Linked DNA regions of Homo sapiens. The protein of the gene in region 2 purifies or fractionates together with the protein of the main gene of each other region. This does not show direct contact. Each region holds a gene or a part of one and is shown on either strand. Other genes may lie near its edges.

The links.
Region 1: the proteins of CEP250 (region 2) and CEP78 purify together in Homo sapiens (affinity purification with mass spectrometry, with the first as the bait; one large-scale study listed by BioGRID). This does not show direct contact.
Region 3: the proteins of CEP250 (region 2) and CALU purify together in Homo sapiens (affinity purification with mass spectrometry, with the first as the bait; one large-scale study listed by BioGRID). This does not show direct contact.
Region 4: the proteins of CEP250 (region 2) and HNRNPR purify together in Homo sapiens (affinity purification with mass spectrometry, with the first as the bait; one large-scale study listed by BioGRID). This does not show direct contact.
Region 5: the proteins of CEP250 (region 2) and CLSPN purify together in Homo sapiens (affinity purification with mass spectrometry, with the first as the bait; one large-scale study listed by BioGRID). This does not show direct contact.
Region 6: the proteins of CEP250 (region 2) and EIF4ENIF1 purify together in Homo sapiens (affinity purification with mass spectrometry, with the first as the bait; one large-scale study listed by BioGRID). This does not show direct contact.
Region 7: the proteins of CEP250 (region 2) and HBA1 purify together in Homo sapiens (affinity purification with mass spectrometry, with the first as the bait; one large-scale study listed by BioGRID). This does not show direct contact.

The regions. Positions count from the first base shown.
Region 1 is NC_000009.12:78,274,075-78,277,132, forward strand, and holds part of CEP78 (centrosomal protein of 78 kDa), read left to right. Parts: 3' UTR 1-3,058. UniProt on the Homo sapiens protein: Centriole wall protein that localizes to mature centrioles and regulates centriole and cilia biogenesis. Involved in centrosome duplication: required for efficient PLK4 centrosomal localization and PLK4-induced overduplication of centrioles.
Region 2 is NC_000020.11:35,454,122-35,458,397, reverse strand, and holds the start of CEP250 (centrosome-associated protein CEP250), read right to left. Parts: upstream 2,801-4,276; 5' UTR 2,647-2,800; intron 95-2,646; 5' UTR 24-94; intron 1-23. UniProt on the Homo sapiens protein: Plays an important role in centrosome cohesion during interphase. Recruits CCDC102B to the proximal ends of centrioles. Maintains centrosome cohesion by forming intercentriolar linkages.
Region 3 is NC_000007.14:128,745,859-128,749,358, forward strand, and holds part of CALU (calumenin isoform a precursor), read left to right. Parts: intron 1-1,694; exon of another isoform or gene 1,695-2,496; coding exon of another isoform or gene 2,497-2,509; intron 2,510-2,714; coding exon of another isoform or gene 2,715-2,725; coding exon 2,726-2,946; intron 2,947-3,500. UniProt on the Homo sapiens protein: Involved in regulation of vitamin K-dependent carboxylation of multiple N-terminal glutamate residues. Seems to inhibit gamma-carboxylase GGCX. Binds 7 calcium ions with a low affinity.
Region 4 is NC_000001.11:23,309,785-23,313,284, reverse strand, and holds part of HNRNPR (heterogeneous nuclear ribonucleoprotein R), read left to right. Parts: intron 1-1,962; coding exon 1,963-2,084; intron 2,085-2,218; coding exon 2,219-2,831; 3' UTR 2,832-3,500. UniProt on the Homo sapiens protein: Component of ribonucleosomes, which are complexes of at least 20 other different heterogeneous nuclear ribonucleoproteins (hnRNP). hnRNP play an important role in processing of precursor mRNA in the nucleus.
Region 5 is NC_000001.11:35,759,979-35,763,478, reverse strand, and holds part of CLSPN (claspin), read left to right. Parts: intron 1-157; coding exon 158-319; intron 320-997; coding exon 998-1,075; intron 1,076-1,408; coding exon 1,409-1,481; intron 1,482-2,274; coding exon 2,275-2,383; intron 2,384-2,562; coding exon 2,563-3,137; intron 3,138-3,500.
Region 6 is NC_000022.11:31,458,843-31,462,342, reverse strand, and holds part of EIF4ENIF1 (eukaryotic translation initiation factor 4E transporter), read left to right. Parts: intron 1-3,500. UniProt on the Homo sapiens protein: EIF4E-binding protein that regulates translation and stability of mRNAs in processing bodies (P-bodies). Plays a key role in P-bodies to coordinate the storage of translationally inactive mRNAs in the cytoplasm and prevent their degradation.
Region 7 is NC_000016.10:175,287-178,022, forward strand, and holds HBA1 (hemoglobin subunit alpha), read left to right. Parts: upstream 1-1,393; 5' UTR 1,394-1,430; coding exon 1,431-1,525; intron 1,526-1,642; coding exon 1,643-1,847; intron 1,848-1,996; coding exon 1,997-2,125; 3' UTR 2,126-2,236; downstream 2,237-2,736. UniProt on the Homo sapiens protein: Involved in oxygen transport from the lung to the various peripheral tissues.

The DNA.
Region 1 (3,058 bases), on a different chromosome or scaffold from region 2:
ACCTGTGCGTGGATATTTATAGCAGCTCCATTCATAGTGACCAAGATGTCTTCCAACAGGTGAATGGATAGCGATGTATCCATATGGTGGCAAACATGCCACAATTCGGATGAATCTCAACATCATATGCTGAGTGAAAAAGCCAGTCTCGGAAGGCTACATTCTGTATGATTCCATTTATATGGCATTCTTGAAAAGACAAAACTATAGTGACAGAACAGATTGGAGATTGCCAGGTGTTGGGGTTGGGAGGAGTTGATTACAAAGAGGCTGTACAAGGGAGTTTGTTTGTTTGTTTGTTTTGGTGATGAACAGTTCTGTATCCTGATTGCGGTGGTGGTAACGTGAGTCTATACATATGTTAAAATTTATAGAACTGCATACTCTCAAAAAAATTAGTTTTACTCTATAATAATATTAGAGCTTAAAAAATTCATCCCTCTTGCCCATCAGTAGATCAGGATATGAAGGATACCATTGAACATAAATATTTTGTATCCATGATGAATACAAAGTATATTCTCCTGGAAAACCAATAGAACATTCATATAAATGATTCCTATGAAGGTAAAAAACTTACAAAATTCAAAGATCATACAGATCATGTGCTCTGTATAATGTAATAATAGTAACAAAAGGCCTGTCCACTTGGAAATTTTTAAATGATCTTCTAAATAACTCATTTAAAGGAGAAATCAAAATAAATTGCAAATTATTTAGAATTAATAAAAACTTCTCTAAAGCTGAGGAATTCTACCAAAGAGGTGTTAGAGGAAATTGTATAGATTTTGATTTACTTTCCAGGAAGAAAGAAGACAAAAGAGATGAATTAAACATTTAAAGCTAAGAAAGAGATAAACCAAAAGAAAGGTGAGGAATTGGTAAAAGCAGAAATGAATAAAATAGCAAATTTTGATCAGTGAAACACAGGTTTTTAAAAATGAAAGATAAACCTTTGTAAAATATGATAAAGAAAAAAAAGCAAGAAGTAATTAACAAAAATTGCCAGCATTAGGAATAATTTTAGAAGGATACCTACAACTAGAAGAGATATTTTTAATTATGAGCACTTTTATAATTTACTATAAATAATTGTGTAGTGTTAAACCAATAAATTTGAAAGACTAGATGAAATGTGACTGTTTAAAAATATGGATTGTAAAAATTGATAAAAAATAGAAAATGTAAATAAACGAAACATCTTAGGAGAAATTGAAAAAATAGGACAAGAACTTATTTTTAAAAAGAGGCCAGGTGCGGTGGCCCATGCCTGTAATACCAGTACTTTGGGAGGCCGAGGTGGGCGGATCACCTGAGATGAGGAGTTCAAGACCAGCCTGGCCAACATGGTGAAACCCCGTCTCTACTAAAAATACAAAAATTAGCCGGGCTTGGTGGCGGGCACTTGTAATCCCAACTACTCAGGAGTCTGAGGCATGAGTGTCGCTTGAACCTGGGAGGCAGAGGTTGCAGTGAGCTGAGGTCACACCGTTGCACTCTAGCCTGGGAGACAAGAGGGAAACTCTGTCTCCAAAAAAAAAAAAAAAAAAATACAGTTAGAAAAACTTTAAAGGGGCCAGGTGTGGTGGCTCATGTCTGTAATCCCAGCACTTTGGGACACCAAAGTGGGAACATTGCTGAGACCAGCAGTTTGAGACCAGCCTGGGCAAGACCTCATCTCTACAAAAATTAAAAAACAAAACAAAACAAAAAAACCCAAAACTTAGCCAGGCATGGTGGTGCGTGCATGTAGTCCCAGCCACTCAGGAGGCTGAAGTGGGAGGATCGCTTGAGGCCGGGATTCGAGGCTGCAGTGAGCTGTGATCATGCCACCACTGCTCTCTAGCCTGGGCAAGAGTGAGACTCCGACTCAAGAAGAGAAAAAGAAAAACCTTCCAGGGGCACATTTATTTGTAAACCATTCCAGAGGATAGAAAAGAGATGTAAGGCTCCCTAATTCATTCCATACGGTTAGCGTAATCCTTATAGCAAACTGCACAAATAAAACACAAGGAAAACTAAACCAAATTCAATTAATGTAGGTGCAAAAAATCCAAAATAAAACTAGCAGTTTGAATTCAGCATTGTAGCAAAAGATATATCATTTTCAAGGAAGATTTGTACCAAAACATGCAAGATTGAGTGAAGAGTAACTCACTGTAGCTCACTAAATTAACAGATTAAAGAAGTATAGTCATCTTCACAAGCTGAAAGAGTATGTGATAAATTCAACATCCTCTGGTATTCTTAACAATCTCGAAATAGAAGGAAACTTCCTTAGCTTAGCTTCTTGGCTTCATTAAATATACCTAACAGAAATCCACAGGAAACAAACTTGGTGAAAAGTTTTTGCTAAGATAAAAACGGTACTAAAAAGTACACATTTTGGGAAATGAGACAAGGCTCTCGTTATTTGTAAATATGGGGTCTTTTTTTTTTTGGACAAAAAACCCCCTGTGATGATCTACTGGCATGCTATTACAGCTAATAAAGCTGAATAAGGAGGCTGTGCACAACACCAACACACCGGTATGAAAAGTGTGTACACCAGCAATAACCAATTAGAAAATGTATGAGGAAATAGACTCTCATCCACAATAGCTGCGAGAAGTAAATATTATCTAGAAATAAGATTAACAAGAGAAATGTAAGGCCTATATAAATAAAAGGATAAATCTATGCTAGAGGGTATAAAAGAAACACAAAAATAGAGGTATGCCATGTATAAGACCCAACATAATAAATAGTTCTACCAAATTAATTTATAAATTCAAAGCAATTTCATATAACCACAGTAAAGCTTTTTAAATGGATGTAATAACCTGATTATAACATTAATCTGAAAGTCATCAGGCATAAAGCAATTTTGATTACATCTCAAAACAATCCATGGAGTTAGGGTAAATGTGCTGTTCACACAGGAATAATCACAGGTATAGAACCGAGAACCTAGGAACAGAGCAATGTATATATATATGTATTTAAAAAATGGCATCACAAGTCAGTAGAGAAGGGTTTGAACTATTCAGTAAATGATGTTGAGGTTATTTACTACTTT
Region 2 (4,276 bases):
GTACAGAAATGAACAAGACCTACCTTCCTACTTTTGCTAAGGATCAGACAGGGAAGACAGCACCCTTACTAAAGACCAACAGCCACCTGTGAACCTGGAGTGGAAAGTGACAGAAGAGTGAGATAAATTATGTATTTGATCCTCTCTCATCCAAAATACTACAAAAGGAGTATTTAAATAAAGTTTAAAAGAGAAGCAACACTACCACCTAAACTTGGAATAGAGGCATAAATGCTACAAGGACTAAGATGCAGAATGGTATTAAATAGAATTTGTCACTTAAAGCAAAAACAGAAAAATACTTGAGGACACAAACATTTTATTTACTGAGAAAGAAACTACAGTATAGACATTTGTGTACAGACATAATTTGTTTCTTACTCCTGAAAAAAACAAATTAGCATGCAGCTCCTTATTTAAATCTCATGTGGGGCCTCTCTGTTGCTCTCTTCCAACCTCTGGCCTCTCCCACTCAGTCTCCTTTGCTGCCTTTTCTCATCTCCCCAGTATCTAAAGTTTGGAAACCTCAAGGCTTCAGACCTCTTCTCCATCTCCATTAATTTCCAAGGTAATCTCATCCAGTGTTTTGTTTTGTTTTTGAGACAGGATCTGGCTCTGTTACCCAGGCTGTAGTGCACTGGCATGATCTCAGCTCACTGCAACCTCTGCCTCCCCGGTTCAGGCAATTCTCATGTCTCAGCCTCCTGAGTAGCTGGGATTACAAGCATGTGCCACCACGACCAGCTAATTTTTTTGTATTTTTAGTAGAGACAGAGTTTCACCAAGGTGGGAGGATCTCTTGAGGCCAGGAGTTCAAGACCAGCCTGGGCAACACAGGGAGATTCCCATCTCTATTAAAAAAAAAAAAATTGCTGGCTGTGTGGCATTCACCTGTAGTCCCAGCTACTTGGGAAGTTAAGGTGGGAGGGCTGCTTGAGCCAAGGAGTTCGAGGCTGCAGTGAGCTGTGATCACGCCACTGCACTCCAGCCTGGGACAAGATGCTCAAATAAATAAATAAATAAAATACTATCACCTCTCCACATAACACTAGTACTTTTATTTACCTTACCATGCTTTTTCTGTCCCTATCTAATTATTATGTAATATACTTACCAAAATGCAAATTCCACAAGTGCAAAAGCATTGTTTTATCGAATGCTGTATTCCCAGCTCCTACCTAAAACACAGCCTGGTTTATAACAAGTGCCCATTATTACTGACTATTATAGGACATTAGGTAACATGATCCATATTATCACCAATGGTCTTGCAAAATGCTAACAGCTCTATTACCTATATAAAAAGCAAAAAAACAGGCTGGGTGTGGTGGCTCACAACTGTAATCCCAGCACTTTGGGAGGCTGAGTTGGGCAGATCATTTGAGGCCAGGAGTTCGAGACCAGCTTGGCCAACATGGCAAAACCCCATCTCTCCTAGAAATACAAAAATTAGCCAGGCACGGTGGCGGGCGCCTGTAATCCCAGCTACTCAGGAGGCTGAGGCGGGAGAATCGCCTGAACCTGGGAGACAGGATGTTCCAGTGAACCCAGATCGCACCACTGCACTCCAGCCTGGGTGACTGAGACCAGGTCTCAAAAAAAAAAAAAAAAGTGGGGGGAGGCATATAACTTATAGCTTGGTCAGTGGCAGAGCAATGACTGAACCCCAATCTGATTCCAAATTCTACACTCTCTCCATTACATTAGCTGTTAAAGCATGAACATTACATTAGTTAAAGCATGGACTACGAACTCACAGCTCTGTGAGGGGCACTTCTTAAATAGTGAGCGATAATGACACCTATGTCTGCAGCTTTCTGATCGAAAAGGAGCAAAGAAAGATAGAAGAACTAAAGGAACAGAGGGCGTACCAGTAGCCTTGGTTTTGTTGTGACCTCTATAAATCTGGGACCAGTTCTCCTTTCTAAGCCTTCGCGGTAAAATACTGATCACAAGCCTAGCCTCCAATAACTCCCAGGGCCAAAGTAAAGATCAATTCAACAGACGTTGATTAAACCCAAAGGCAATCTAGTCAAGTCATCAAATGCCCTGGGGACAGTTTCCCAGCTCCATCCACTTATTAGTTGTGGGACTCCTGGCAAATTACTTTTTCTATGAATACCTCAGTTTCTTCATGGGTAAAACGTGAAGCTATAGAAAGAACTCACCCCATAGGATTGTTGGGAAGATTAAATAGGCCTTTGGCTGAGCGCGGTGGCTCACGCCTGTAATCCCAGCACTTTGGGAGGCCGAAGCGGGCGGATCACCTGAGGTCGGGAGTTCGAGATCAGCCTGACCAACATGGAGAAACCCCGTCTCTACTAAAAACATAAAATTAGCCGGGTGTGGTGGCGCATGCCTGCAATCCCAGCTACTTGGGAGGCTGAGGCAGGAGAATCGCTTGAACCCGGGAGGCGGAGGTTGAGGTGAGCCGAGATCGCGCCATTGCACTCCAGCCTGGGCAACAAGCGCGAAACTCCGTCTCTAAATAAATAAATAAATGGGCCCTTATGTGTAATGCATTCAGTAGCACCTGACAATTTGTGATCATTCCGTACAGTAAGCCATGACTATTATCATCACGTGCTAGGCCCTGGGATCTAGAGATGAAAAAGGCAAGGCATAACATCTAACGAACGAGCTTACGGTGTCAACGAGGGGCCGGGAAAGTAACTCGGTGCACAGCGAGTGCAAAAACCGAGAAGCGAATGCAGCTGCGCCTGGAGAAGGCGGCTGAGAAGCGATACTTCAGCAGGGTCCTGAAGAATGGGAGCTCCAGAGTCGGGTGGCGGGTGGGACTGGGCTTTCGGATAGATTACGTGCAAATCCGCCAGGACACAGGGAGCGAGGGGCGGGGGGGCGGCAGAGCGCGGCGCCTCACCCTCCCAGCCTGGGATTGCGGCTACTGGACACGAGGGTCGGGAAGCTCTCCTTCGGCGCCGACTGGAGCTTAGCGTGCTGGCGGCAGCAAGAAGCTGAGGCAAGCGGGCCCCGGGCCCTAACGACGCGTCCCAGCCCCTCTCTGGGCCTCGGGTTCCTCCCGGGTAACAAGAGGCCGCTGCCCGAACGGGATTCCCTCAGGCGCCCTAGACGGGCGGGTCTCCGGGCCTCGGACGGTTAACCCGAGCACCTCCCACCTGCCCCTGAGGCCCCACCTCACCACGCTCGGCTCCCGCAGACGCCCGGCTAGTTGCTCCGCGATTGAGCTGCGGCAGCCGCTGCTAAGGCCCTGCGGGGGACGGGGGCGGAGCCCACCCCGAGGCAGAGGGCCAGGCCCCGCCCCCCCAAACTCCCGCCCTTTGGGAGGGGCCCGCCCCTCCAAGTCCTGCACCTATAGGCAGACTGAGCCGGCGCAGGGCCTCCCGCCATGTTGGGTATTGGCAGCCGACTTACTAGAGAGGCCCTGAAGGAAAGGGGGTATTATTTTAAGAATTATAAGATCCCTAGCCAGAAATGGGGACGGTCAGGGTCTCTGGATTCGCGAAAGGGACATTTCGGAAGCAGAAAAGAAAAATTGCCCTCAATCATTTCGCTTTTGGCTTCAGTGTTACATACAGCGCATGTGCAAGGTCACCTGGTTCTAGGTGCGCCTGCGCACAGCTCCACCTACAAACCAGACTACAATTACAACTGCCGAGAAACAAAGGGGCTCGCTGCCACTGGTTAGCGATAATACTGGCAGCGCGACCGGTTTCTGAGGGTTGTTCACCTTGCTGCTCAGACGCTCCGAGAAGCTTCAGGCAGCATAACACTTACAGGCGAGTTACTTACTCAACACTCGGTTTTGTCTGCATGTCTCTGCACAGAGTGTTACCTTTACCTGACTTAATCCGTCCCGGAGCTGCAGTTCTGCTTAAGCCTGACTTCTAGAGAACTTTTTCTTCCCAATAGGACCCATGCGTTATTCCTGTAGCATTTTGTGTATAAATTTTTTTTTTTTTTTTTGAAATGGAGTCTTGCTCTGTCGCCAGGCTGGAGTGCATTGGCACGATCTCGGCTCACTGCAACCTCTGCCTCCCAGGTTCAAGTAATTCTCCTGCCTCAGCCTCCCGAGTAGCTGGGACTACAGGCGCCCGCCACCACGCCCGGCTAATTTTTGTATTTTTAGTAGAGACAGGATTTCACCATGTTGGCCAGGATGGTCTCGATCTCTCTTGACCTCGTGATCCTCCCGCCTCGGCCTCCCAAAGGGCTGGGATTACAGGCGTGAGCCACCGCGCCCGGCCTTGTGTATAAATTGTTAATGCACTTTCTTAGAGTTGTAAACTCCATTTAC
Region 3 (3,500 bases), on a different chromosome or scaffold from region 2:
GCAGGATACAGTATTAAAGTTCACTTTCACACCAATCTTACCAGCCCACCCCATTCCTGTCTCTTCTCCCATGAACCTTGAGGTTACCACTGTTTACACATGGGTATTTGTCTTTGCACACCATTTATGTGCATGTTATATTTTATACAAATAAAAACAAGCTGGGGAGATTGTTTAATTTTGTTTTGCTTTTTATGTAAATGAGATCTTGACGTTGTTTTGAACCTTGCTTTTTTTGTTCACTTGACATATCTTGGTGAATTTTCCATTTCACTGCAGATAGATGCATCTCGTTCTTTTTTTTTTTTTACATTCTTTTTTTTGAGGAAGGGTCTCGCTCTGTCACTGAAGTGCAGTGGTGAGATCTCAGCTCACTGCAGCCTCTGCCTCCCGGGTTCCAGTACTTCTCGTGCCTCAGCCTCCTGAGTAGCTGGGACTACAGGCGTGTGCCACCACACCCAGCTAAGTTTTGTATTTTTAGTAGAGACAGGGTTTCACCGTATTTCCCAGGGTGGTCTCGAACTCCTGACCTCAAGTGATCCTCCCGCCTCGGCCTCCCAAAGTGCTGGGATTACAGGCATGAGCCACCATGCCTGGCTGCTTTTTTTATTTTTTTTGAGATAGGATCTCTGTCACCCACGCTGGAGTGCAGTGGTACAATCTCAGCTAACTGCAACCTCCACCTGGTGGGTTCAAGCTATCCTCCCACCTCAGCCTCCTGAGTAGCTGAGACTACAGGTGTATGCCACCATGCCCAGCTAATTTTTGTATTTTTAGTAGAGACAGTGTTTCGCTATCACCCAGGCTTGTCTTAAACTCCCGGATGCAAGTGATCCGCCTGCATTAGCCTCCCAAAGTCTTGGGATTACAGGCGTGAACCACCACCCCCGGCCTCATGTCATTCTTTTTTTTTTTTTTTTTTTTTTTTGAGACGGAGTCTCACTCTGTAGCCCAGGCTGGAGTGTAGAGGTGCTATCTCGGCTCACTGCAAGCTCTGCCTCCTGGGTTCACGCCATTCTCCTGCCACAGCCTCCCAAGTAGCTGGGACTACAGGCACCCACCACCACGCCCGGCTAATTTTTTGTATTTGTAGTAGAGACGGGGTTTTACCGTGTTAGCCAGGATGATCTCGATCTCCTGACCTTGTGATCCACCCGCCTCGGCCTCCCAGTGTGCTGGGATTACAAGCATGAGCCACTGCGCCCGGCCCATTCTTTTTAACCTTTGTGTATTTTTCCATAATCGAGATTTAATATATTTTACCAATTCTCTGTTTTTATTTGTTTTCCGATTTTTTAATCATTGTGAACTGTCATCATTGAACATCTTAATACAAGTATCTTTGTCTGTAAATGTGGGTATTTTGATGGGATTGAATGAAACAATGTTGAGAAACATAGCCAAGTTCTAACATTGATAGGAATAGAGTAATAAGTACCATCTTCTACCCATTTCTCTATGGGTTTCATGGTCTTGCTTTCACATTGCTTCTTCTGATGGATTTTCCTAAGTCTTAACCTTCACGTCATCAGTAACAGTACCTTATTTGAGACTGGGGCACTTGGGAATGACTGCCCCCCAACCCCCGCCCCCATTATCTCCTTAGGTACTTTTCTGTTTGTCTTACTGTGTTGTCGTATTTACTCTAGAACACTTTCCACTCTCTACTGATATGTCCTCCTCTGCCATTTCAGGACCTCCCACCCTCCCCCACTGAGCTGCCTTCCCAGTGATGAAAGAAAAAATGTAAAAGCCTGAAAACCCTTCTTCTTGATTTTTAATTTTTTTTTTTCCCTCTAAGACCTTAACCACTCTGGATAGTATCACGGGGTATCAGTAGAGTGTGCTAAACAGATGTGTACTCTGCAGCTTCTTTGCAGGTTTTTTGTCACATTTTTCAGTCAAGTGTTCCAGCTTTGTGCTTGTTCATTAGAGTCACCTGTGACTACAGAGATTCTGAAAGTTTGAATCAGGGCCTGGGAATCTGTACTTTGAACAGTACTACAGGTGGTATTTATGCCTAGGCAAGTATGGGAAACAACTGTGCAGAAGGATAAAGACGTTCTTATCTATGACTAGACCATCTGAATGATTTGGCCTTTGAAGGTGACTCAAGGTTGAGCCTGGATGTTGGAGACTTGGTGCTATAGACCAAGGAAGCTGCCAAGTATTTCGCTGGTTCCTAATCTCATGAACATCAGAATCACCTGAAAAACATTTAAAGCTACGAATGTCTGAATTCAGCTTCAGAGACTCTAAATCAATAGGAGAAACTTAAAGCTTCCTAGATGATTCTAATAACCAGCCATGTTTGAAGACCAGACCACCAATGCGTACAAGAAGTAAAGGATTTGGAGTCAACATTTAAACCTTGGTTCTTTCACTTTTAATTCTTATGAACTTGGGCAAAAGGATTAAAATTCTACTTTGGTATCTTTTGAAAGAAAACAGAAAGTGGACATTTTAACTATAAGTTTCTTATCAGCCTACAATCAGATGAAGGAAACTGGTAAAAATTTCTCACTGTAATAATTGAAGAGTCTGATATTCCACCATACTTATTTTATGGATGAAGTAATATTTGGGATAATATAAAAGACTTGCATAGATATGTATATCAAATTAATAGTTTAACTCGGATGTGAGCTTTTAATTTCTTATTTAGTTATTAAGCATACTGCCTCCTGAATTAACTGCTTTTCATTTTCTTCAAGATCTAATTATCATGGACCTGCGACAGTTTCTTATGTGCCTGTCCCTGTGCACAGCCTTTGCCTTGAGCAAACCCACAGAAAAGAAGGACCGTGTACATCATGAGCCTCAGCTCAGTGACAAGGTTCACAATGATGCTCAGAGTTTTGATTATGACCATGATGCCTTCTTGGGTGCTGAAGAAGCAAAGACCTTTGATCAGCTGACACCAGAAGAGAGCAAGGAAAGGCTTGGGTAAGGTACCACCTCTCAGGGGTCTAGTGTGGGTAATGACATTCTTTATAAAGGCTAATTCTTTTCTTTTCTGGCTCAGTTATGAGTAAAGTTATATTGAACTATTAATACATCTTCTGAAAGCTAACCATGGAATTACTACCTCTAAAATTTCATTAAATGCCTGATTTCATACATTTTTAATTGAATAACAGTTGGTGCCTCATTCTACAAAGCATCATTTTTGCATAAAAGTACCAAGTACTGCAAGACCCAACTTGAACTGCATTATCTTGCTACCAGAAGAACATAGCATGGGGGGATTTCTCATCTCTTCTCATCTCTACTGCTTTTAATTTTTAAAAACTATCTGTGCCCTACTGACCTGGCACAAGCCAAGTCTTTGATGGGCTAATAAACGGCACATTGGATCCCTATAAAGTTTATGATTTCCCGAGGTGTCCTTCACCCTCTTTATTTTCATTCTCAGATATTTGTTTAATTAAAAAACAAAAATCAAACCAACTTTGTCTTTTAGAAAATTGTAACTTAATGTCTGAGTATGAGTTACTGTT
Region 4 (3,500 bases), on a different chromosome or scaffold from region 2:
TACAAGGTATAAAAATTAGCTGCTGTAAACACTGAATAGGTAATGAATGCATTATAACTACTTAGTTGACCTCAGTTTGTGTACCTATGAAGGAAACTGAGTGGTGTACATGACTCATACAGTATACCATGTTTAATTGAGTAGATAGATTTTGAGGGTATGATTAGTTTTACCTTTATTTAATCATTTTAGAGTTAAAATAGCATTCACTATGTTTTACTGATTTCGGTAATTGTTAGAGATATCACTTGTGTATAATAGTTGATTTAGTCTTTGATGATAATGAAAAGTTTGAAGAAAGTATTTTCATATGGTATCTGGAACACAAAACCTGCTTTCTATCGACAATGGTTTAGGACTATCTTTAATGGGTGAAATTTTCAGTTTCTTTTTTTTATTCATCTCTCCTTCCTTGGGGGGGTGGGAGCAAGACAAAACACTACTAAAATCTTATTTATGTTATTAGGAAGATAGATCCAGAATGCTTAGTGACACAGGCATGGTTCTTTTTCTGCATGTTTGGTCGGTGGGATACTGCCATCTCTAATCTGAGCATTTTTTGGTTTTGTTTTTTGCCCAGGCTACTGCTTTTAAAACAGGCTTTATAGAATCCCTGATTGGTTTATAATTAATTGGCTTGCTCATTGATGGTAGCTAATTAATGAGGCAGTATTGTTCATAAAATTCATAACTTGTCCAAGATCACAAACTCAGTAATAATCTGGCTTTGAAGTATGGAGTCTTATCTGTTATGCTGTTATACTCTTATCCGTTCATTTGTGGCTTCTGAAATTTCACTGGTATAGAATGCAGATAACTAATAATTTTATGCTGTCTAAATATTCCTCCTGACTCGACTGGTTTCAAATAACTGGTTGTCCTGATTGAAAATATTTATAGGATGGTTTGCCAAAGAAGCCTATGAAATTATAAAATATCTAGTCCAGGAACTGGGAGTCACCAGGATGGTCAGGGCAGAGGGTAGATGTTTCATTTTTTAATTTATGCCAGGAAGCTTTTGTAAACTTGTTTAGTTGCTTTAACTGAAGCAACGCAAAGCTGAGGTGGTAAAAGGGAAAATTGCAGTCTTGAGGACTAGTTTCGTTTTTGTCTAGATACTTATAAATCACTGATAGCTCCAATAGAACATTTTTTTATGTGTGCCCAGAGTGGGGAAAGGTATAGGGAAACAAAAAATAAAATATCATGAGGAGGTGACATTTTGTTACTGAGTACCTGAACCTTTTGATGTATGGCAGAGGTTGTTAGGTGGAACAACGTGAACAAAGGGCTAGAACATGGAATGTTTGATTACTGCTTTCTACATAATTGCTTGAGTCTTCATTAGTCCAGGCCTTTTCTGGCTCTGTACTTTTAACTGTTCAAGCAAAGTACATTTTGGGTTAAGCATTGTGAGGGAAACCTAGGCTTTTTTGTGTTAGTATCTTCTTGAATTTTACAGATAATCTCACTCAGTAACCTCATTTGTGCTTCAAATCCTTGAAATTGTCGTATAAGAACAGTGGAAGACCTGTATGTTGTATGCTACATGTTTATTTTAAAATTCTAATCCTGAGAAGTTAATCTTTGTCTGGCTCGTATTAATACTGGCATTTTTCCCCGGTATGGATTTGCTTCTTTGGTATGGCTTATCTTTTAAGGAGTTATTTGGAATTAAGGAGCAGCAATAGGTGGCAGCCCTTTTACCTTTTAAAATATAATATCAGGTGGTCGGTTTTGTTCTAAATGTAATTTATGTATAAAAAGATAAGGTCAAGGGAAACGTATTTTCTTTGTGTGTTTGTGTTTAACTTTCTGGCTAGATTCACCTTTTGCCATTTAAAATAATTGTGAAGTAAATTGTTAAGTGTATTAAATTACACAAGTATAATAGCTTACATACTATATAAAACAAAATACAGTTTTATATCGTTGTAAAATAATTTTTCTAATTTTTTATAGGCTATGGATGAAATGAATGGCAAAGAAATAGAAGGGGAAGAAATTGAAATAGTCTTAGCCAAGCCACCAGACAAGAAAAGGAAAGAGCGCCAAGCTGCTAGACAGGCCTCCAGAAGCACTGCGTGAGTCTACATTTTAGTAGATATATCTTTGGACAAGGAATAACGTGATAATGGAGATCAGATTAATAAAACAAAATCAGAGTCTTGAAGCAAACTGATTTGTTTTTTCTTTTCTCCCTTCTCTACTTTGCTAGGTATGAAGATTATTACTACCACCCTCCTCCTCGCATGCCACCTCCAATTAGAGGTCGGGGTCGTGGTGGGGGGAGAGGTGGATATGGCTACCCTCCAGATTACTACGGCTATGAAGATTACTATGATGATTACTATGGTTATGATTATCACGACTATCGTGGAGGCTATGAAGATCCCTACTACGGCTATGATGATGGCTATGCAGTAAGAGGAAGAGGAGGAGGAAGGGGAGGGCGAGGTGCTCCACCACCACCAAGGGGGAGGGGAGCACCACCTCCAAGAGGTAGAGCTGGCTATTCACAGAGGGGGGCACCTTTGGGACCACCAAGAGGCTCTAGGGGTGGCAGAGGGGGTCCTGCTCAACAGCAGAGAGGCCGTGGTTCCCGTGGATCTCGGGGCAATCGTGGGGGCAATGTAGGAGGCAAGAGAAAGGCAGATGGGTACAACCAGCCTGATTCCAAGCGTCGTCAGACCAACAACCAACAGAACTGGGGTTCCCAACCCATCGCTCAGCAGCCGCTTCAGCAAGGTGGTGACTATTCTGGTAACTATGGTTACAATAATGACAACCAGGAATTTTATCAGGATACTTATGGGCAACAGTGGAAGTAGACAAGTAAGGGCTTGAAAATGATACTGGCAAGATACGATTGGCTCTAGATCTACATTCTTCAAAAAAAAAAATTGGCTTAACTGTTTCATCTTTAAGTAGCATTTTGCTGCCATTTGTATTGGGCTGAAGAAATCACTATTGTGTATATACTCAAGTCTTTTTATTTTTCCTCTTTTCATAAATGCTCTTGGACATTATTGGGCTTGCAGAGTTCCCTTATTCTGGGGATTACAATGCTTTTATCGTTTCAGGCTTCATTTTAGCTTCAAAACAAGCTGGGCACACTGTTAAATCATGATTTTGCAGAACCTTTGGTTTTGGACAGTTTCATTTTTTTGGATTTGGGATAGATTACATAGGAGTATGGAGTATGCTGTAAATAAAAATACAAGCTAGTGCTTTGTCTTAGTAGTTTTAAGAAATTAAAGCAAACAAATTTAAGTTTTCTTGTATTGAAAATAACCTATGATTGTATGTTTTGCATTCCTAGAAGTAGGTTAACTGTGTTTTTAAATTGTTATAACTTCACACCTTTTTGAAATCTGCCCTACAAAATTTGTTTGGCTTAAACGTCAAAAGCCGTGACAATTTGTTCTTTGATGTGATTGTATTTCCAATTTCTTGTTCATGTAAGATTTCAATAAAACTAAAAAATCTATTCAAAACAT
Region 5 (3,500 bases), on a different chromosome or scaffold from region 2:
TGTGAGTTAGAAACCAGTAAGAATGTTCTAGATTTTATATGCTTGTCTGTTGATGAAACATGGGCTTTTTCTGGCCTGATCCAAATTGCCATATGATGTTGTGAAATACTGGATTTTTAAATGATTGGATTATGCTTTTTGTTTATGTATTACTTAGGAAGATGATGTAGAACAGCCATTTAATGACAGTGGCTGTCTTCTTGTGGATAAAGACCTTTTTGAAACTGGGTTGGAGGATGAAAATAACTCTCCATTGGAAGATGAAGAGTCATTAGAATCAATAAGAGCAGCTGTAAAAAACAAAGTAAAAAAGCACAAGGCAAGTAAAGCATGATTGCAATAAGAGTTAATCAACTGCTTCTGACCTTTGCTATATTTTTAATTTACTGTTGGAACCTTAATTTTTTTTTTAACTGAAGAAAAACTTGTGTCAGTTGACTTAAGTGTTTCAGCTGTTAATTTTGGAGACTTGCAGTACAAGTGATAGACATGCTAACTTCTTTGGAAACTAGTGTTTTGTTATTACCCTTTTAGGAATGCTGAAAAAAAAAACCACTAAGATATTTGATGGTGTAGTAAGATGCAGGTAAATAATAGGGAAGAGATGTAAATTTTGCAATCCTATAGCCTTTGAGAAATGAACCCTATAGGGTTTCAGGAAGGGTATCAAAGAGAGGCATCAGTCAAAACATTGTTGTCCCGAGTGTTTGGAAGCATAATTTTTCTTCCTAAGATTTTTTTTTAGCTTCCTGCGAGTTATTATCCCTCTTTAGGGAAAGATGTAAGCAGAGGTAAAAGAAATAAGGGTCCAGACTCCATCTGAGGTATCTGTTTTCTAAGCATAATAGGATGCTGTGTGTTTAATAATTTCTAGTTGATGATTATTGATTTATTAATGTAGCATGATGTGGTGTTGGACTACAAAAGTAGTCTTCAGCTAAAGCATCCTCTTATTTGAATTTCGTTTTTGTCCTAATCAACCTGCCATTTCTTTTAGAAAAAAGAACCATCTTTGGAGAGTGGGGTCCATTCATTTGAGGAAGGAAGTGAGTTATCAAAAGGAACCACGAGGAAGGTGAGGTAGAGCCCTGTATATTAGTCACACTGATCTCTTTACACAGGAGATTATAGATTTCTTAGGGATAAATATTTTATTTTGTCTATCATATTTTTCTGTTACCCATCATATTGCTTTGTACATAGTAGGAACAAAATATGGATTGGATTGAACAAATTCTCTGAGACTTGGGAATAAATGAATTCCTTGAGTTTATACTGCATTTGGGCTTACTCATGCTTACTATTTCCTTTCCTCTTTTCTTGGAGAGAGCAAACTCTTGAGTGATGAATATCTATCTTTCTGGATATTCATATAATTAATGTAGTCTCACTTCTTGTTTTCTTTAAGGAAAGAAAGGCAGCCAGATTAAGTAAAGAAGCATTAAAACAACTGCATAGTGAGACTCAGCGCCTTATTCGAGGTAATGCAACCCAGTAAACTTTGAGGCAAAATCACAACATTTCTTTGTAAGCTCAACTTGGATGTTGGGGACTTTTATTTTTTTAACACTTCTAATGTGAACTCAGGTTATAATATTAAGTTTAGAATTGATCTTGGTGAAAGGCCATTGTTCTAAAGCCCTTGGAACATTAGTATAAACTGAAGAAATTTTCAGAACTGTAGTGCAGGTAAGGAGGAAATTTTTTAATGGTTGTCTATGGACTGATTGTGTCAGGATTCTTTGGAGAGGTAGTAATCCCTCCCTATTTGCAGTTTTGGTTACCTGTGTCAGCCATGGTCCATGGAACTTAAAAATATCATCCCTTTGTCCAGAGTATCACGCTGTATACATTACCTGCCTGTTAGTCCGTTAGTAGCCCTCTCAGTTATCAGATCAAAAAAACACTGCATGGTTTAGTACCATCTGCAGTTTCAGGCATCCACTGCAGGTCTTGGAATGTGTCTGTCTGGATAAGCGGGGACTACTGTATATAAATGTTTAGGTCCCACAGAGATTCTGATTCAGTAGATTCGAAATGGGATCCAAGAATCTGTATTTCTAAAAAACTTCCTGGATCATTTTGATTTCACATCTAGGTTTAAAAGCCACTGGTCTTCAGGGAGCTTTTTTGTACTTAGCTCCTCTGCCTTTGTTAAAGGGGAGTTTTCTATTTCTAGTGATGGCTTTGGTTATTATGTTTAGTTAACTGAATATGAAGTGACATTTCAGAATATACAGTATATATATTTGCTTGTTTTATTCCATTTTATAGAGTCTGCACTGAACCTTCCATATCATATGCCTGAGAATAAAACCATTCATGATTTCTTCAAACGTAAACCCCGGCCCACTTGCCACGGAAATGCCATGGCACTATTGAAGTAAGAACCCTCTTTCCTTATTATAATTTTCATGAACATTTAGTTTTGTAGCAAACATCTGGCATAAAAAGTTCAGATTTCTCACTCCCTTAAAACTGATTTAACTGATATATACTAAGGGATGAGAATGTTTCACATTTAGGATAATTTTCAACTCCAGCTCAATTTCTCTTCTCTAGGTCATCTAAATATCAGTCAAGCCATCACAAAGAAATCATAGACACTGCAAATACTACTGAAATGAACAGTGATCACCATAGTAAAGGTTCTGAGCAGACAACAGGTGCAGAAAATGAAGTGGAAACTAATGCACTCCCTGTAGTTTCAAAGGAAACCCAGATCATTACTGGATCAGATGAGTCTTGCAGGAAGGATTTGGTAAAAAATGAAGAGCTAGAAATTCAGGAGAAACAGAAGCAGAGTGACATTAGACCTTCACCTGGGGACAGCTCAGTGTTGCAACAGGAATCCAACTTCCTCGGGAACAATCACAGTGAGGAATGTCAGGTTGGAGGGCTTGTAGCATTTGAACCTCATGCCCTGGAGGGTGAAGGCCCCCAAAATCCAGAAGAAACAGATGAGAAAGTGGAAGAGCCTGAGCAGCAAAATAAATCATCAGCAGTTGGGCCACCTGAAAAAGTGAGACGGTTTACTCTGGATAGACTTAAGCAACTGGGAGTAGATGTTTCCATTAAACCACGGCTAGGTGCTGATGAAGATTCCTTTGTGATACTTGAACCTGAAACCAACAGAGGTAATCCTTTACATTGTGGGGAGCCTCCCTGGAGTGATTATCCTGGTAGCTTTTGATTATTGACTACTGTCGAGGACAGAGAACACAGGAGGAACCAATAACCACTTTGATCTTATCCTGCAGTTGTTCCAGATATGGGCAGAGTCTTTTTTAGAGAAATTTGGCAGGGTATCAGAATGATCTAAGCCATGTTTAAAATGGAAGTCTGTTGGCTGGGTGCGGTGGCTTACGCCTGTAATCCCAGCACTTTGGGAGGCCAAGGCGGGCAGATCACGAGGTCAGGAGTTTGAGACTAGCCTGGCCAATACAGTGAAACCCCGTCTGTACTAAAAATACAAAAATTAGCCGGGCATGGTGGCACGC
Region 6 (3,500 bases), on a different chromosome or scaffold from region 2:
CCTGGGTAATTTTTTCTATTTTTAGTAGAGATGGGGTTTCACCATGTTGCCCAGGCTGGTCTCGAACTCCTGACCTCAGGTGATCACCCGCCTCGGCATCCCAAAGTGCTGGGATTATAGGTGTGAGCCACCATGCCCAGCCCCTGCAACTGCTTAAGTGAGGATTCACTAAGTGTAGATCATACTGTTTCCCTAACTCGTTCTGCCTGCCACACTAAACAGAAAAGTCTGAAGTTATCCTGTAAGAGGACTGTGTACATGAAAGAGTTCCCCAGAAATAAGAAACGTGGTAGAAAAATGAGAGGTCTCATTTATTGAGCAATTATGTCCTAAACACAGTGGTGAGTGTATTTTGTCTGTGTAATCCTTCATCTCCTAATGACCTTGTGCAGTGTAGGTACTTTTTTATGCCCATTTCATAGATGAGCAAATGGAGGCTCAGAGGGCTTAAGTAACTCAAGGACACTTAAGGTAGTCACCATGGAAATAAGTAGTGAAGTCAAGAGTAAAGCAAGATGCTTCTGGGCATCAGAGCCTACCTTCTTCATCATGGTATTAGGCCTTCCCAGGTCAGTTGTTTGTGATTTGCCTTCTCTCAAACTTAGTTTCAGGATGAGTACGGTGGCTCACGCCTGTGATCCCAGCACTTTGGGAGGCCAAGGCGGGTGGATCATTTGAGGTCAGGAGTTTGAGACCAGCCTGGCCAACATGGTGAAACCCTGTCTATATTGAAAATACAAAAATTAGCTGGGTGTGTTGACGCATGCCTGTACTCCCGGCTACTGGAGAGGCTGAGGCAGGAGAATTGCTTGAATCCAGGAGACAGGTTGCAGCGAGATTGTGCTACTGCACTCCAGCCTGGGAGACAGAGTTGAGACTCTGTCTCCAAAAAAACCAAAAAAACCTAGTTTCCTCAGCTGTAAGATGGGGTCAGATATCTCCCTTGCTAAACTGAAGGAGCCAGAGCTAATGTGTGTGAAGTACCTGCTGCAGAGTGGGAGCCCATTGGTCTGCAGCCAATCATTTTTTAGGGCAGTGACCTGGCTCTAAGGTGGCCAGTCCCAGGCTGATGGTCTTGGGAAGGAGGCACTGTAGAGCCAGGTGGGGACTAACCTGGGTTAAAGTACTAGGGCTCCTGCTTAGAAAAGGATAATTTTTGACAAAATTTTGACAGCTGGGCCTGTTTCTTTGTAAAGGGAAGAACAATGCCTATCATAACTTAAGGGTTACCTTTAGCATTGAAGAACACATGTACCCATCAGAACTCAGCCTCCAAGAAGGCACTCAGTAAATTCTACCTGCCTCAAGCTTTCAGGCTTAGTTGAAAGCCTTTTGGCAGATACTAGGCAACAAAAGGGGAAAGCCTTTTTTTTTGTTTTTTGTTTGTTTGTTTGTTTTGAGATGGAGTCTTGCTTTGTTGCCTAGGCTGGAGTGCAGTGGCACGATCTTAGCTCACGGCAAACTCCGCCTCCGGGTTCACGCCATTCTCCTGCCTCAGCCTCCCGAGTAGCTGGGACTACAGGCGCCCACCACCACGCCCAGCTAAATTTTTGTATTTTTAGTAGAGATGGGGTTTCACTATGTTAGCCAGGATGGTCTCGATCTCCTGACCTCGTGATCCACCCGCCTCAGCCTCCCAAAGTACTGGGATTACAGGCGTGAGCCACTGCGCCAGTCCTCTATTTTTTTTTTTAATTAATTTTCTTTTTTTTTTGAGACGGAGTCTCGCTCTGTCACCCAGGCTGGAGTGCAGTGGTGCGATCTTGGCTCACTGCAAGCTCCGCCTCCCAGGGTCAAGCAATTCTGCCTCAGCCTCCGGAGTAGCGGAACTACAGGCGCGTGCCAACACACCCAGCTAATTTTTTGTATTTTTAGTAGAGATGGTGTTTCACCGTGTTAGCCAGGATGGTCTCAATCTCCTGACCTCATGATCCACCTGCCTCAGCCTCCCAAAGTGCTGAGATTATAGGCGTGAACCACTGCGCCTGGTCTGGGAAAGCTATTTTAATAAATAAGGGAAAAATCAGTGCCACCTTAACATTTTGATGAAGACAAATATAAGCAGAAATAAGCTGATGGCATTTATTTAGAAGGAGAAGGAAATGGAGAATCAAAATACTCATCTTCTTTTGTAGTCTTCAAAATATAGTACATATTACCATTATCTTTGTGCTATCACACAGTGTTCCCTAGGATAATGTAAGAAATTGATAGGTAACTTGGAAGACTTTGCTATTAAATTGGCTTTGAGATATGTCTTTGTCTCATTCTTAATTAAAGCAGCACCCAATAAAGCACCACTTTAACGATAAAGATCAGGCTTCTGGTGAGAAAAAATTATGTTTTTCTTAAGTGAGGTGAAATCTGAATTTCAACCATTCTTGTATCAAGTGCAGGAGTCAGGAGTGAGATAGATTGGTAGTGGCACCTCCTTATTTTACAGATGCAGAGAGAAATTGAGACCTGGAGAGAAGGGATGGATTTCATGGCAGAGCCTGGAGTAGAATCCAGGGGTCTTGGTTCATCCCATTAGCTAACTACAGAATGTCTCTAGGTTGCCCTTGCTATGTATTTAAAATAAATAAAAACATTAAAAACTAAGATGTCAGATGCCTTAAATGTTAGCATCTGGCAGTTTCACTTTGTCTCCCCATCCTAAAAACAACTGAACATTGTAGAGTATACCTGGCACTACAGAGTAAGACAAAGCTGGTTAGACCAGGTTCCCTACCCTCAGAGTTTAGCCTCACCAGAGAGTTACTATTATACAGTGTGACAAGTACTCAGAGATGACATAAGGATTATAGAGAAGGTAGCAATTAATTTTACTAGGTAGGGCAAAAATGGGTAGGCAGGGCAAGCTTCCCAGAGAAGGTCACATTTGAATTTCGCCTTGAAGGATGAGCTACAACAACCAACCTGTAGGCAAGTGAAAATTGCCCTCATGCCAGGTTTCTCATAAATACCTTAGGTTGCTGAGCCCTGACTGAAAGTGGTGCTACAGGTGCATGGGCAGAAGCAGAGCTAAATTAATTTGGTTCCATTTTTAAGCAGTAAGAGACTTGCAAAGACTATCCTTTAAAAAAAAAATCACTAGAAAAAGAACTAGGCATGGTGCTGGACACAGTGGCTCACTACTGTAATCCTAGCACTTTGGGAGGCCAAGGCAGGAGGATCACTTGAGGTCAGCAGTTTAAGTCCAGGCTGTGCAATTTAGCGAGACTCAGTCTCTACAAAAAATTAAAAAATTATCCAGGCATGGTGGTGTGCACCTGTGGTCCCAGATACTCTGGAGGCTAAGGCAGGAGGATCACCTGAGCCCAGGAGGTAGAGACTACAGTGAGCTGTGATCGTGCCACTACTCTCCAGCCTGTGCAACAGAGCAAGACCCCATCTCAAAAAAAAAAAAAAAAAAAAGACCCCCCTCCACTATAGAAAATATGAAGTTCCCACGAAGGGAACCATAATCCTCCCCACATCCCATTGGTATTCTAGCTTTA
Region 7 (2,736 bases), on a different chromosome or scaffold from region 2:
GCACTCCTCAAAGCAAGATCTTCTGCCAGACCCCCAGGAAATGACTTATCAGTGATTTCTCAGGCTGTTTTCTCCTCAGTACCATCCCCCCAAAAAACATCACTTTTCATGCACAGGGATGCACCCACTGGCACTCCTGCACCTCCCACCCTTCCCCAGAAGTCCACCCCTTCCTTCCTCACCCTGCAGGAGCTGGCCAGCCTCATCACCCCAACATCTCCCCACCTCCATTCTCCAACCACAGGGCCCTTGTCTCCTCTGTCCTTTCCCCTCCCCGAGCCAAGCCTCCTCCCTCCTCCACCTCCTCCACCTAATACATATCCTTAAGTCTCACCTCCTCCAGGAAGCCCTCAGACTAACCCTGGTCACCTTGAATGCCTCGTCCACACCTCCAGACTTCCTCAGGGCCTGTGATGAGGTCTGCACCTCTGTGTGTACTTGTGTGATGGTTAGAGGACTGCCTACCTCCCAGAGGAGGTTGAATGCTCCAGCCGGTTCCAGCTATTGCTTTGTTTACCTGTTTAACCAGTATTTACCTAGCAAGTCTTCCATCAGATAGCATTTGGAGAGCTGGGGGTGTCACAGTGAACCACGACCTCTAGGCCAGTGGGAGAGTCAGTCACACAAACTGTGAGTCCATGACTTGGGGCTTAGCCAGCACCCACCACCCCACGCGCCACCCCACAACCCCGGGTAGAGGAGTCTGAATCTGGAGCCGCCCCCAGCCCAGCCCCGTGCTTTTTGCGTCCTGGTGTTTATTCCTTCCCGGTGCCTGTCACTCAAGCACACTAGTGACTATCGCCAGAGGGAAAGGGAGCTGCAGGAAGCGAGGCTGGAGAGCAGGAGGGGCTCTGCGCAGAAATTCTTTTGAGTTCCTATGGGCCAGGGCGTCCGGGTGCGCGCATTCCTCTCCGCCCCAGGATTGGGCGAAGCCTCCCGGCTCGCACTCGCTCGCCCGTGTGTTCCCCGATCCCGCTGGAGTCGATGCGCGTCCAGCGCGTGCCAGGCCGGGGCGGGGGTGCGGGCTGACTTTCTCCCTCGCTAGGGACGCTCCGGCGCCCGAAAGGAAAGGGTGGCGCTGCGCTCCGGGGTGCACGAGCCGACAGCGCCCGACCCCAACGGGCCGGCCCCGCCAGCGCCGCTACCGCCCTGCCCCCGGGCGAGCGGGATGGGCGGGAGTGGAGTGGCGGGTGGAGGGTGGAGACGTCCTGGCCCCCGCCCCGCGTGCACCCCCAGGGGAGGCCGAGCCCGCCGCCCGGCCCCGCGCAGGCCCCGCCCGGGACTCCCCTGCGGTCCAGGCCGCGCCCCGGGCTCCGCGCCAGCCAATGAGCGCCGCCCGGCCGGGCGTGCCCCCGCGCCCCAAGCATAAACCCTGGCGCGCTCGCGGCCCGGCACTCTTCTGGTCCCCACAGACTCAGAGAGAACCCACCATGGTGCTGTCTCCTGCCGACAAGACCAACGTCAAGGCCGCCTGGGGTAAGGTCGGCGCGCACGCTGGCGAGTATGGTGCGGAGGCCCTGGAGAGGTGAGGCTCCCTCCCCTGCTCCGACCCGGGCTCCTCGCCCGCCCGGACCCACAGGCCACCCTCAACCGTCCTGGCCCCGGACCCAAACCCCACCCCTCACTCTGCTTCTCCCCGCAGGATGTTCCTGTCCTTCCCCACCACCAAGACCTACTTCCCGCACTTCGACCTGAGCCACGGCTCTGCCCAGGTTAAGGGCCACGGCAAGAAGGTGGCCGACGCGCTGACCAACGCCGTGGCGCACGTGGACGACATGCCCAACGCGCTGTCCGCCCTGAGCGACCTGCACGCGCACAAGCTTCGGGTGGACCCGGTCAACTTCAAGGTGAGCGGCGGGCCGGGAGCGATCTGGGTCGAGGGGCGAGATGGCGCCTTCCTCGCAGGGCAGAGGATCACGCGGGTTGCGGGAGGTGTAGCGCAGGCGGCGGCTGCGGGCCTGGGCCCTCGGCCCCACTGACCCTCTTCTCTGCACAGCTCCTAAGCCACTGCCTGCTGGTGACCCTGGCCGCCCACCTCCCCGCCGAGTTCACCCCTGCGGTGCACGCCTCCCTGGACAAGTTCCTGGCTTCTGTGAGCACCGTGCTGACCTCCAAATACCGTTAAGCTGGAGCCTCGGTGGCCATGCTTCTTGCCCCTTGGGCCTCCCCCCAGCCCCTCCTCCCCTTCCTGCACCCGTACCCCCGTGGTCTTTGAATAAAGTCTGAGTGGGCGGCAGCCTGTGTGTGCCTGAGTTTTTTCCCTCAGCAAACGTGCCAGGCATGGGCGTGGACAGCAGCTGGGACACACATGGCTAGAACCTCTCTGCAGCTGGATAGGGTAGGAAAAGGCAGGGGCGGGAGGAGGGGATGGAGGAGGGAAAGTGGAGCCACCGCGAAGTCCAGCTGGAAAAACGCTGGACCCTAGAGTGCTTTGAGGATGCATTTGCTCTTTCCCGAGTTTTATTCCCAGACTTTTCAGATTCAATGCAGGTTTGCTGAAATAATGAATTTATCCATCTTTACGTTTCTGGGCACTCTTGTGCCAAGAACTGGCTGGCTTTCTGCCTGGGACGTCACTGGTTTCCCAGAGGTCCTCCCACATATGGGTGGTGGGTAGGTCAGAGAAGTCCCACTCCAGCATGGCTGCATTGATCCCCCATCGTTCCCACTAGTCTCCGTAAAACCTCCCAGATACAGGCACAGTCTAGATGAAATCAGGGGTGCGGGGTGCAACTG